Linked DNA regions of Homo sapiens: region 2 is linked to region 1. Evidence: fine-mapped expression QTL. A gene starts in region 1. The other region holds a variant in brackets. All regions are shown on one strand. Distances are between the middles of the regions.

Region 1 (2,912 bases):
CGGGGTTTCACCATACTGGTCAGGCTGATCTCCAACTCCTGACCTCAGGTGATCTGCCTGCCTCGGCCTCCCAAAGTGCTGGGATTACAGATGTGAGCGACCACGCCCGGCCTTGACTTTTTTTTTTTTTTTTGAAACAGTTTCACTGCGTTGCCCAGGCTGGAGCGCAGCCGCCATGTTCTCAGCTCACTGTAACCTTGGCCTCCCGGGTTCAAGCGACGTTCCTACCTCAGCTCCCCCAGGTAGCTGGGATTACAGGCATGTGCCACTACTCCCGGCTAATTTTTGTGTTTTTAGTAGAGACGGGGTTTCGCCATGTTGGCCAGGCTGGTCTCGAACTCTTGACCTCAGGTGATCCGCCCACCTTGGCCTCCCAAAGTGCTGGGATCATAGGTGTGAGCCACTGCACCTAGCCTTGGACCCTCTTCATATTAAATTAAAATTAATGTTTTTGGAACACCTATTAGGCCACAGAGTGAGGAGGATGAGTTAAAGTAAGTTCCCTCCTTGTAAGTAGTTAGAAGTATAGAAAGAAAGAAGTGGACCTGCTCTCTATTGTCTTTTTCTTTTCTTTAGACGGAGTGTTTGCTCTCTTGCCCGGGCTGGAGTGCAATGACGCGATCTCAGCTTACTGTAACCTCTGCCTCCTGGGTTCAAGTGATTCTCCTGCCTCAGCCTCTTGAGTAGCTAGGAGTACAGGCATCCGCCACCACGCCCGGCTAATTTTTGTATTTTTATTGGAGACGGGGTTTCACCATGTTGGCCAGGCTGGCCTAGTACTCTTTTTTTTTTTTTTTTGAGTCGGAGTCTCGCGCTCACGCTCAGGCTGGAGTGCAGTGGCGTGATCTTGGCTCACTGCAAGCTCCGCCTCCCGGGTTCACGCCATTCTCCTGCCTCAGCCTCCCGAGTAGCTGGGACTACAGGCGCCCGCCACCACGCCCGGCTAATTTTTTGTACTTTTAGTAGAGACGGGGTTTCACCGTGTCAGCCAGGATGGTCTCGATCTCCTGACTTCGTGATCCACCCGTCTCGGCCTCCCAAAGTGCTGGGATTACAGGCGTGAGCCACCGCGCCCGGTCGGCTAGCCTGGTACTCTTAACCTCAGGTGATCCACCAGCCTCAGCCTCCCAAAGTGCTAGGATTACAGGCGAGAGCCACCGCGCCTGTCTTTTTAAAAGCTAAAACTGAAACGGAAACAGAGCTCCTGGCAGATAGGACCAGGAGCCACAGCGAAGGAGGTGGCCTGTGATTAGGTTTTTATAAATGGGCAGGTATTAATCAGGGAAAATGGAGTAAAGGACACGATAGACATACATTGCTAAGTCTAGTATTGGAAAAAGTAAGGCCTGGGACCCCTAAAAACTTGCTCGAGAGTGAAAGGTAAATGCTATGTGTCCACACTACTGTGGTAAAGCCGACAGTCCATACCATGAGCCCATTTCGCGCAGGGAAATTCGAGTGGTGGGCTTGGGCCCGTCGTTCTGGTAGCTTCCCAGTAGAGGGCGCCGTAAGCATATGCGTCTTCAGCCTGACTGGGCTGGAGAGGCGGTGCGTCCTCCTGGCCGGGGGGCGGGGGCCGTCGCGCTCACGTGACCTTTGCTCATGGCGGCGGCGGCGGCGGCGGCGGTGCTGGTGGTGCTCGGCGGCCGGAGCCGGATCCTGTAGCCGGGTGTGGGCCCGTGTCTGTCCGTCCCTCCTTCGGCCCCCTCTCTTGTCTTCCGGAGTGTGGCTGGCGGAGCTGGGATGGCGGAACGAGGCCTGGAGCCGTCGCCGGCCGCGGTGGCGGCGCTGCCGCCTGAAGTGCGGGCGCAGCTGGCGGAGCTGGAGCTGGAGCTCTCGGAGGGTAGGAGCCGGGCCGGGGAGAGGGCGCCCGGGGCCCTGCGGATCGCGGCGACTTGGGAGACAGGTCCCCGCCGCGCGCTCTGGCGGCCGTGCGGCGAGGGGGACGAGGGTGTAGAGAACCTGGCCTGGCGCTCCACGACCGTTTTCCCTCCTCTCCCACCCCATTAAGTGGTTTCCTGTGGCTTTCATTGTTTTCCCATGGAGGGGACTAAGTAAGGGCTTGTGGAAAGGTCCTCCCGGGCCCACACTGCTTCTGCGCTTCCTGCCCCCCAAAACCCGAGACAAAGCTGCGCCCTCCCGCTTCTGCCCAGGCGTCTGGCCCAGGTGGGGTGAGGGGTAGGGCTGCGAGGAGGGTGGCTGACAGCTTTCTCCTTTCCTCTCCCCTTTTCGTGGAGGGCTCCACGCCTTGTTCCAGCCCCCCCTTCCCCCTTTCAAAAAGAGACACATGGGAAATCCGCAGCATCATTTCTTCTCTTTCCTTTAACAATGCGCGATGCCTCCCCAGTGACAGGAGTGAGACACAAGCGGGTGAGCCATTTAGGGTCCTAGGAAGATAAGAAGCAATGGCATTAACCCAGAGAGACACACGGTGCTGCTTTTAGACCACCTTTGTCATAAGAAGTTTTTTTTTTTCCTGGTGCCTGTTATTCGGGCCGAATTTTCCGCATCTGGTCACCTTTTGGAGTCTTTGATGAAGGAAGGAGAGGAGGCTACCGTTTACTTGCAAATCCTGGCTGGCATTCTTTCTTTTGACAATGGATTGGGACAGGGAGGGTTCGATTTATTTTCAGAATTAAAAAAAAAAAATGGGATAAATCAAGCCACTGTTATTAGAGAACTCCTTGTACAACAATGAGAGAAACACAGTGCTCCGTTGTGGGCATGTGATCAGGCTTCTGGGGCAGTTGTGATCAGTTCTGTGTAAAGTTCCTGTTTTTATCACTGGCTGCCCCTGAGACAAAAGCAGCATTTTCTCCAAGCTTGATACCAGTACTTTGATTGTGTCTCCAGAGTTGCATATTCTTACTGAGTTCCTTGTGGAAGGCCCTCTTCACTAGCATTTTTCAAGT
Region 2 (2,912 bases), 230 kb after region 1:
CGCCCGGCTATTTTTTGTATTTTTAGTAGAGACAGGGTTTCGCCCTGTTGACCAGGCTGGTCTCAAACTCCTGACCTCAAGTGATCCAGCCGCCTCAGCCTCCCAAAGTGCTGGGATTACAGACATGAGCCACCGCGCCCGGTCTGACCTTCTGTTTTTCTGTCTCTATATTCTATACCATTTTTTTTCTTTCTTTTTTTTTTTTTTTTTCCAAACAATAACCTTGTATTCTCTTCTCTACCCAGATGGCAACTTTGTCATGTTATTCTTGATGGGTAAATAACAGAAAAGGGACTAGAACTGAGACTAATTTTATGTATTAATGTGTAATAAGGCAAATATAGCGCCAGGTGTGGTGGTTCATGGCTATAATCCCAACACTTTGTGAGGCCAAGGCAGGAGGATTGCTTGAGCCCTGAAGTTTGAGACCAGCCTGGGCAACATAGTTGAGACCTCATCTCTCCCCTACCCCCACCACTCACCTGCAAAAAATATAGATGGGCTTAGTGGTACATGCCTCTAGTCCCAGCTACCTGGAAGTCTGAGGCAAGGGGATTGCTTGAGCCCAGGAGGTTGAGGCTGCAGTGAGCTGTGATTGTACCGCTGCACTCCAGCAACCTGGGCAACAGATTGAGACCCTGTCTCTTAAAAAAATAATAAGGCAAATATAGGCATGGACAAAGTGAGTGAAAGAAGATAGCACACATGGGTGGATTATTTCAGGTCTTCTGTGACCTTCTTCTTTCAGAAGGGTCTTGATGGTTTAAACTTGAGCCCCATCATAGCCCTCTTGCTGTCACTGTGGCCAATACTGGTTTTGCAAGTCCCTGGGTTGCCGACCTGTGTCACCTCTGCTTTGAATCCAGGGATGAAAGCCCTCCTCAGCATGGAAATGTTTCAGTGCTGCCACAGTCCCCGTGATAAGAGTGAGAGCAGGGGGCCTACTCTCAAGGGGAGGAGAGGTGAAAAGAGTGTGGATTTTTCATGTATATGGCTAAATTATTTCTTGGTTTGAAAATGTGAAATACAGTTTATCGAAATTCTAAACAACGCATTGATTTGTCTTTCTTTAGGGAACCTCAGGGCCTGATCCGACTACTGTGTATGTGGATCTGAAATCACTAAGACATGACAGGTACAACAGATTTATTAATGCTCCTTTCCTACTAGTTCCTAAGCATAACAAATTCGGAACCTCAAAGCCAGCATTTTCCCTCATTCCTTTTGTTCATATATTCCAGGAGGGGAATGGGAAGAGGGAAGGAATTTGTTTTTATCATTAATACATAAGATTTACATTTATAAGAAAGCTTTAATTCTCTCAGTTGCTACACTGTTCTTTAATATTAAAGTATAATAGTTATTGCCCATATAAAAGTATTTTGTGACATTTGATATAAATTAAACTAAAATGGATAGTCTCTTTCCTCTAAGAGTTTAAAAATAATAGGACAGATAAGATAAATGAGTCAGAGTAGGGTTTTTGAAACAACACTTTATCTGAGCCCCATGGGTAAAAGCCTGCCTCCTTAGCCCAGAAGGGAATTTTAGCTGTGTCCGGCAGTGAGC[G/A]CTGGCCCAGGGCTCTAAGACTTCTCTTCCCAAGCCCCACTACCCTGGATGTGTTATCTGGAGTGCCCCACTGCACTGACCTAGCCTGCATAGGTGGAACATCTCTCTCATGCAGCAGTTTGAAACCTGGGAAGATTTTGCCACCCTAGAGGAGATTTGACAATGTCTGGAAACATTTTGGGTTGTCATAAAAGGGGGCTTGCTACTGACATCTAGTGGGCAGAGGCCAGAGGTGTTGGTAAACACCGCAATGCACAGGATAGCCCCTTTCAACAAAAAATTATCTGGCCAAAATGTTAGTAGTGCTGAGTTTGAGAAACCCCTCTGTAGTATGAGGAAGAGAGACAAGTTAGAGGTTGTGGGAAGGCAGCACCGAGCTGCAGGAACATGGCGACTTCTCCTCTTAAAAGCCCTATATATAGTAAATACCGTTCTTCTGCAGGGTTCGTCTCGTGGAACGTGGCGCCCCTCAGAGTTTGCTTCTCTCAGAGTCTGGAAAGGTAATTTGTTCTGTTGACCATGGGGAAGGTGGGCTGTGTGGAGAAGTGGTTCAGTTTAAAGAAACCAGAAGCCATATAATATATTAGTGTCCAGGGCAAGCCTTAATTGAAATCTGGAGATAATTTCAGCTTGGCTAATACTTTCAAATTCATATGGGTACATAGATAAGAAGAATAGTAAATTTGAACTCTCTTAATTTCCATCGATTTTTAAAAATCCAACTGACATGTTATTCTTATTGACAGACCAGCAAAATGCAGTGCTCATTGTATGAAAGGTGGATAGAAGAGCTGGTTCTATGTTTTTTTTTCATGGTTTTTTTTGTTTTTTTGTTTTTTGTTTTTTGTTTTTTTTGAGATGGAGTCTCACTCTGCCACCCAGGCTAGAGTGCAGTGGCGCGATCTCGGCTCACTGCAACCTCTGCCTCCCAGATTCAAGGAGAACTTGCCTCAGCCTCCGAGTAGCCGGGGTTACAGGCACCTGCCCCCACGCCCAGCTAATTTTTGTGTTTTTAGTAAAGATGGGGTTTCACCATGTTGGCCAGGCTGGTCTTGAACTCCTGACATCAGGTGATCACCTGCCTCGGCCTCCCAAAGTGCTGGGATTACAGGCATGAGCCACTATGCCCGGCCCGGTTCTATCTTACAAACGTCACAAGGAGAAAGCTAGGAGAGGCCGAGATGGGAGTGTGGTTTAAGGTCAGGGAAGACACACATGCATTTAAAGTTGAAAGGAAAATAAAAATGGGGATGAGATTAAAGATATTTGAGAGTTAACATCTGTGGGAGTAAGATTTCTTAGATTAGAATGAGGCTATAAAACGTCAAAAGAGAGATTTAGTG

Evidence for each region.
Region 2: its variant is fine-mapped to the expression of DIP2B in testis (GTEx, PIP above 0.99).

Annotation. Positions count from the first base shown.
Region 1 is chr12:50,503,398-50,506,309 of GRCh38, forward strand. It overlaps DIP2B (disco interacting protein 2 homolog B), which reads left to right and starts at 1,588. Exons shown (of 38, transcript NM_173602.3): 1 at 1,588-1,843. The coding sequence starts at 1,744. RefSeq lists a silencer at 1,891-2,000.
Region 2 is chr12:50,733,062-50,735,973 of GRCh38, forward strand. DIP2B (disco interacting protein 2 homolog B) reads left to right here. Exons shown (of 38, transcript NM_173602.3): 33 at 1,074-1,135; 34 at 2,012-2,069. Among named protein-coding and RNA genes, the nearest start is that of ATF1, 30 kb to the right of the region's middle. The variant G/A (reference allele first, on the strand shown) is at 1,570.